2 linked regions of the Homo sapiens genome follow. The protein of the gene in region 1 interacts with the protein of each later gene in a biochemical or structural test. Each region holds a gene or a part of one and is shown in the gene's direction. Other genes may lie near its edges. The genes, in order: INSIG2 and PCK1.

Region 1 (3,921 bases):
CTGTCTTAATCTTGTTAATCCAGTTGACTACTTTGCATGTCATTGGCCTTGCTAATAGAGTGAGAGAATTGTTAGATTACTGATTCTTTACTTTGTTTGGATCATGGACTTTTTTGAGTACTTTATATAAATTATGGAACTTTCATCCCAGAAAAAAATGCATATATATACAACTTTTTTGTTTTGTTTCGCATGGGGGTCTCATACCCCTTGGAATAGATGATTTCCCAGTTCCCTGCTATTTCTTAAAGCTTTTATTTTTTGTCACCAGTAATTATATACTATTGTATTATGATGTAGTTACAAAATTAGCTTTTTGAATCTCATTCAAATAAATGTCAAGCAAATGTGTTATTTTTAAGGAAAACTTTTGGGGCGAAGTAGAAAACTAAACAAGCACTGCCAGGAAAGGTTAAATAAGCAGCTGTGGTAGAAAACATAAATAAACAGAAAGTCTCTAGCTGTCTTGAAATAGAATGAAGTCTGTAGCAATCAGTGGCTCTCATTGTGGGGACAGTTTTGGTTATCACAAATAGGGGAGGGGGCATTTAGTGGGTGGGAGCCAGGGATGCTAAATGTTTTGCAATGCTTAGAACAGTCTCACACAGCAAATAATTGTCCTGCCTAAAATATCAGTGCCCTTTGACAAATGCTGGTCAGTGTGAGATGGGGGCTAGCATGACTGAAATAGCTTTTTTAAACTGAAGTTATTTTCCTTTTTAAAAATACTATTAAACATAAAATACCCCTTTCCATTAATTCCCTTTTGGAAAAATCACAAACAGAAACAAATGATACGCTGTCTCAATGTGGGTTACTCAAAGTATGCCCATCTTCTAGCAGCTGTTAGCAGCACGTGAGGGCAACGTGCTGTGTCTACTGGGATCTGGGGAAGTAAAGAGTCAACTAATGTTCTTATACAGAGTGTTAGTTTGCTATTTTTTCTTTTTACTTTAAAACATTTTCACACCTTGATCTAGTACTATTAAAGAAAATTTCAAGGTGATTTTACATTTATTCTCATCATCTTTGTGCAATTGTATAGTCACCTGCTTGTTTTGGCTTACTATCTGAGAGTGTATTATAGTTGAGATGGTATTTCAACATCTAACCATCTTTTCAGTAACCAAACACTTTTATATAGAACCATCTGCCGAAAAAGAAGTCTGAGCAGTTGAGATGGAATGGAATTCAAGGTATAGAGGCAAGAGGATGGGTTTTGGAATCAGACCTGAAGTGGAATTTCAGTTTTGATACTGCATGTCATGTGACCATAAGCAAATTGCTGAATCTCTTTGACTTGGTAGCCTCATCTGTAAAATGAGGATGATAATGTCTACCTTTATGTTTGTTTTGAAGAGTAGAGTTACTATATGTCTGGCAGGGAGTAGGCCTTCCATAAATGGGTGCCCTATAAAGAATAATGATGATGATGATGAGGAGGAGAGTTCTGTAGCTACTGAACCTTGCTAAAAGCAACCAGATGATGATGATGATGATGATGATGAGGACGAGGAGAGTTCTGTAGCTACTGAACCTTGCTAAAAGCAACCAGATTATGATGATGATGAGGAGGAGGAGGAGGAGGAGAGTTCTGTAGCTACTGAACCTTGCTAAAAGCAACCAGATGATGATGATGAGGAGGAGGAGGAGGAGGAGGAGGAGAGTTCTGTAGCTACTGAACCTTGCCAAAAGCAACCAGATGATGATGATGATGATGATGATGAAGGAGAGTTCTGTAGCTACTGAACCTTGCCAAAAGCAACCAGATGATGATGATGATGATGATGAAGGAGAGTTCTGTAGCTACTGAACCTTGCCAAAAGCAACCAGATGATGATGATGATGATGATGATGATGATGATGATGATGGAGAGTTCTGTAGCTACTGAACCTTGCTGAAAGCAACCAGATGATGATGATGAGGAGGAGGAGGAGGAGGAGGAGGAGAGTTCTGTAGCTACTGAACCTTGCCAAAAGCAACCAGATGATGATGATGATGATGATGATGATGAAGGAGAGTTCTGTAGCTACTGAACCTTGCCAAAAGCAACCAGATGATGATGATGATGATGATGAAGGAGAGTTCTGTAGCTACTGAACCTTGCCAAAAGCAACCAGATGATGATGATGATGATGATGATGATGATGATGATGATGGAGAGTTCTGTAGCTACTGAACCTTGCTGAAAGCAACCAGATGATGATGATGATGAGGAGGAGGAGGAGGAGGAGGAGAGTTCTGTAGCTACTGAACCTTGCTAAAAGCAACCAGATGATGATGATGAGGAGGAGGAGGAGGAGGAGGAGGAGAGTTCTGTAGCTACTGAACCTTGCCAAGAGCAACCAGATGATGATGATGATGAAGGAGAGTTCTGTAGCTACTGAACCTTGCCAAAAGCAACCAGATGATGATGTTGATGATGATGAAGGAGAGTTCTGTAGCTACTGAACCTTGCTGAAAGCAACCAGATGATGATGATGATGAGGAGGAGGAGGAGGAGGAGGAGAGTTCTGTAGCTACTGAACCTTGCTAAAAGCAACCAGATGATGATGATGATGATGAGGAGGAGGAGGAGGAGGAGGAGGAGGAGGAGAGTTCTGTAGCTACTGAACCTTGCCAAAAGCAACCAGATGATGATGATGATGATGATGATGATGATGATGATGATGGAGAGTTCTGTAGCTACTGAACCTTGCTGAAAGCAACCAGATGATGATGATGATGAGGAGGAGGAGGAGGAGGAGGAGAGTTCTGTAGCTACTGAACCTTGCTAAAAGCAACCAGATGATGATGATGATGAGGAGGAGGAGGAGGAGAGTTCTGTAGCTACTGAACCTTGCCAAAAGCAACCAGATGATGATGATGATGATGATGATGATGATGATGAAGGAGAGTTCTGTAGCTACTGAACCTTGCCAAAAGCAACCAGATGATGATGATGATGAAGGAGAGTTCTGTAGCTACTGAACCTTGCCAAAAGCAACCAGATGATGATGATGATGATGATGGAGAGTTCTGTAGCTACTGAACCTTGCTGAAAGCAACCAGAATGCATGGCATGCTCATATGCCTGGATTCCACAGCAAGGAATGGTCTGCAGGATCAGGTCAGGAGGAGATGTTTCAGGGCATTTTCAGTTGGTATTTAGAGTATGTTTTCCCATGAATTAGCTATACTGTGGATTAGTTTTTTTAGTCCTTTAAGCCATAGAGTTCAATTACATTATAGACTAAGTAGGTCAGTGAGGACTAGCTTGGGAACAGAATTTCCTCTTGAATGTTGAACACAGAGCTTTGATGTGGCATAGCCCCAGTAAAAAGGCCCGTTGTCTAAGTGTTTATCACATGGAACTGACAGGTTGTGGAGGTTACTAGTACTTACAGATATTCTCATTTTCATACTAGTTATTTGTAATTCAGCCCCATTCTCTGCGGTTTACATGAGGGCTTTGTTCCAAAATTCATTCAAAGGTTGTTTGATACTGGAAAACTCAGAGGAAATGTATAAATTTTATGTGATGATTAGGAGCTAGGTTTGCTCTCAAAAAGGCCTACTTTACCCTATATGGTTTGATTCAGAAAGAGTTAACCCAATTTAATTAAGCAAATATGATTATGTGGAGCTCCCACTGTGGGCTAAGCAGGAACTTTTCTGGGTGCATAGGCACAGTGATATTAATATAATAGTGAATAAGACCTTCATAAAACATTTACAATCCATAAAGCAACTATACCTTTAATTAGAAAGTAGTCATTATAAGTGCTACACTTTTTAAAATAAACTGCTTTTGGATTGAAGGAAATATCATTTCTGTACCGATTTATGAAAGTGCCAAAGATATATTGTTGGATGGGATAAAAGTAAATTACCTGTGTAGTATTTTTCCCATTTAAAAACTGTTAGTATTCATAGAAAAC
Region 2 (3,921 bases), on another chromosome or scaffold:
TTTACTTGAACTAGCTGTTTCTCTCCCAGAAGACTCAGAACATAAGCACCTGGAATGGATGGGTCGCATTTAGGACTCCAAATGAGTTCTGCTTTCCCTTTTTGTTTTCAATCTATGTGCTCTTTCAGGTACTCAAACCTGTTACCGTTTTATCAGCAAAATGGGACTTTCTACCAATTTGGTGGGATGAGTCTCGCCGGGAGTGATGTGTGTGTCACGGAATTGTGGTCATGCATCGGGATGGCTAATTCACTGATGTCAGATGCTAACGAAGTGGCCTCGGCTACTGAGCATCACGTCACTGTTGGGTTTAGACACAACACGATCTTATGTATGGATGACAGCACCACTAATAACAAATGCCAGTGACCTAAACGGGGAATAACTTCAAATGAAACAAAAAGCACCTCATATCATATTTATCCTGAAAGACACAACTGGCTGAATAAAATCTGAATACAGGAAACATAGCAATGGGTTGATAATTTTGGTGGAACTTGATGATGTGTGACCCACGCCCAACACAGTGTGACCCAAGCCCCCAGGAGGGTTCTCTAAGTGAGTTTGGTCGGAGGCTGCCATTCACAGTGACTTGTATTTGCCACAGCAGCTCTTTCTAAGCCCAGTCCTGGGATTATCTCAGGGATCATCCCACACCCCAGCGGGGAGATGGGCCAAGTCCCCACCTGACCTCATCTTAGGTAGAGAGGCTTCCATGGAAGTGTGGGCTGGCTGTGGGGGGTTGAGACCTAGCCCCGTTCTTTTGACATTTCACCCTGTGTTCTCCAAACTCCAGCAAGCAGCTTCCATAGCTCATTAAATTTGACTGAAGGTCTGATGGCTTGCAAAGCAAATTCTTTACAACTGTTATAAAGGTTTCATTGCTTAAGCATATAATCTAGCAAAACTGCCAAGCCCCCTCCACTCCCTAAACTCTAAGACTTGCCAGGGAAGAGAACAGTGGCCAGTGGACTGCAGGAGTAACTGCACTCAGCCCAGAACTCCCTGGAGGACACAGGGAAGGTTCTGGAAAGGTGGCGGTACCTCACAGGGAGAGACGTGGTGCTCCAGGGCCCAACTTGCTCATGTTCAGATCCTCACTCTGCAACCCACCAGCCGGCTGTGAGTGGCTACACAATCTCTGCCTCAGTTTCCCTATCTGTACATGGGTTGTTCATAGCCTCCACCTCAGAGGGTAGTAATGATGCCAAGCTCTTAGAACAGTGCTCAGCATGTGTGCATCCTGTGCCTACTCTATGCCAAGCACTACAGAGAGAAAAATGAACAAAATAGGGAGAAATCCCTGCCCTCATGGAGTTTACATCGGGGCAGGGGGCGGGGGCGGCACAGAGCAGACAATCAATACAGTGATTAGCCCCCAGTTAGGTTAGGCATTTCCAATCTTTGCCAATAAGCCACATATTTGCCCAAGTTAGGGTGCATCCTTCCCATGAACTTTGACTGTGACCTTTGACTATGGGGTGACATCTTATAGCTGTGGTGTTTTGCCAACCAGCAGCTCTTGGTACACAAAATGTGCTGCTAGCAGGTGCCCCGGCCAACCTTGTCCTTGACCCACCTGCCTGTTAAGAAAAGGGTGTTGTGTTTTGCAACAGCAGTAAAATGGGTCAAGGTTTAGTCAGTTGGAAGTTGTGTCAAAACTCACTATGGTTGGTTGAGGGCTCGAAGTCTCCCAGCATTCATTAACAACTATCTGTTCAATGATTATCTCCCTGGGGCGTGTTGCAGTGAGTTGGCCCAAAGCATAACTGACCCTGGCCGTGATCCAGAGACCTGCCCCCTGACGTCAGTGGCGAGCCTCCCTGGGTGCAGCTGAGGGGCAGGGCTATTCTTTTCCACAGTATTTAAAGCTGGGAGGTTCTGCCACCAAGCACGGCCTTCCCACTGGGAACACAAACTTGCTGGCGGGAAGAGCCCGGAAAGAAACCTGTGGATCTCCCTTCGAGATCATCCAAAGAGAAGAAAGGTAAGTAGAGCTTTGCATTTACATTTTGAAAAATTACAAAGATGAACTCATTTTTTTCCTGAGAGCAATAACTATTTGGCAATGCACAGCCCTGGCAAAAGGCCGTCGAATGTGTTTGAAGGTGTCTGTTGTTGTTTTTGTTCAGGACGCTTGCGTTTTCTATTTCAGGTGACCTCACATTCGTGCCCCTTAGCAGCACTCTGCAGAAATGCCTCCTCAGCTGCAAAACGGCCTGAACCTCTCGGCCAAAGTTGTCCAGGGAAGCCTGGACAGCCTACCCCAGGCAGTGAGGGAGTTTCTCGAGAATAACGCTGAGCTGTGTCAGCCTGATCACATCCACATCTGTGACGGCTCTGAGGAGGAGAATGGGCGGCTTCTGGGCCAGATGGAGGAAGAGGGCATCCTCAGGCGGCTGAAGAAGTATGACAACTGGTAAGCTCGGCCCCCGCTGCCTGTCCCAGCACCCTGCAGGCAGGGCTCCCCTGCGTCTCCTGGGAGTTGGTGGAGAAAGGTGAATGAAGGCCTTCGGGTAGTTTCAGACTCTTGAGAAGATGAATGCAATGGTCAGAACCATACAGACTTGAATTTTGTGACATTAGTGGGCCAGCCCAAGCTTTAAATGAGGTGTGTGCACAAAAGCTCTGCCAACTAGATTCCTGATTAAAAAAAAGGCAGCCCCTCTCCTACAGACCAGGTCCTAGTGGAGTAAATGTCCACCTGGCCATGTCTTAGATGGTCTGTGTGTTCACACTGATGGACTGTTGTTAGCGTGCTCAGCACTCTGCTAGGCATGGAAAGCCACGGTACTGAAGGAGATGGTTCGCTGCCCGTGGTGCTTGGCTGAAAGGAAGCCTGTGATTTTTGCAGCTGGTTGGCTCTCACTGACCCCAGGGATGTGGCCAGGATCGAAAGCAAGACGGTTATCGTCACCCAAGAGCAAAGAGACACAGTGCCCATCCCCAAAACAGGCCTCAGCCAGCTCGGTCGCTGGATGTCAGAGGAGGATTTTGAGAAAGCGTTCAATGCCAGGTTCCCAGGGTGCATGAAAGGTGAGCGGAACATTGATTTGATTGGGTAAAACAGCAGAGAGCCTTTTCTTATTTACATCTATCCTAATGGTAATTCAAACAATAATGGAAGCTCCCACCACCTCAGATGTCTTTCAGTTCCATACATGAAGTTGGCAATGTATTGAAAATGCACATCCCTCTTCTGCTTTTACAGACTGTCTTATACAAACGTGAAAACTAGTTCCATGCATATGGGTTTTAAATAGCTTGGTGGGACCCAATTGCACATTTATGAAAACTCTTTAATTTCAGCAGGCTGTTCACTTTCCAGTGGCCTCTTCTAACCCAGGGGGCTGGTGACCAGCAGGGTGTGGTGGTGTTAGTGGAACACCGTGAAAATGGGTCTACCTGGGAAAAAAATGCTGGTCGTGTTCGAAGTCCAAGGTCATTTCTCACCAGTGCCCACCCATCGCACCCTGTAGGTCGCACCATGTACGTCATCCCATTCAGCATGGGGCCGCTGGGCTCGCCTCTGTCAAAGATCGGCATCGAGCTGACGGATTCACCCTACGTGGTGGCCAGCATGCGGATCATGACGCGGATGGGCACGCCCGTCCTGGAAGCAGTGGGCGATGGGGAGTTTGTCAAATGCCTCCATTCTGTGGGGTGCCCTCTGCCTTTACAAAGTAAGTGTATTATTTCAGAATCAAAAGTCAAAATAAAAAAGAAAGCTGAACGCAAACCCCAGTGAGTGCCTCGGGGACCCCCAAGCAGGGCCCTGGCGCACTGACTTGGGAGGGGTCCTTGTTCACAGAGCCTTTGGTCAACAACTGGCCCTGCAACCCGGAGCTGACGCTCATCGCCCACCTGCCTGACCGCAGAGAGATCATCTCCTTTGGCAGTGGGTACGGCGGGAACTCGCTG

The links.
Region 2: the proteins of INSIG2 (region 1) and PCK1 form a complex in vitro, tested with the Homo sapiens proteins (one study listed by BioGRID).

Annotation. Positions count from the first base shown.
Region 1 is NC_000002.12:118,091,378-118,095,298, forward strand, and holds part of INSIG2 (insulin-induced gene 2 protein), read left to right. Parts: intron 1-3,921. UniProt on the Homo sapiens protein: Oxysterol-binding protein that mediates feedback control of cholesterol synthesis by controlling both endoplasmic reticulum to Golgi transport of SCAP and degradation of HMGCR.
Region 2 is NC_000020.11:57,559,217-57,563,137, forward strand, and holds the start of PCK1 (phosphoenolpyruvate carboxykinase, cytosolic [GTP]), read left to right. Parts: upstream 1-1,893; 5' UTR 1,894-1,987; intron 1,988-2,155; 5' UTR 2,156-2,195; coding exon 2,196-2,419; intron 2,420-2,854; coding exon 2,855-3,036; intron 3,037-3,479; coding exon 3,480-3,683; intron 3,684-3,811; coding exon 3,812-3,921. UniProt on the Homo sapiens protein: Cytosolic phosphoenolpyruvate carboxykinase that catalyzes the reversible decarboxylation and phosphorylation of oxaloacetate (OAA) and acts as the rate-limiting enzyme in gluconeogenesis.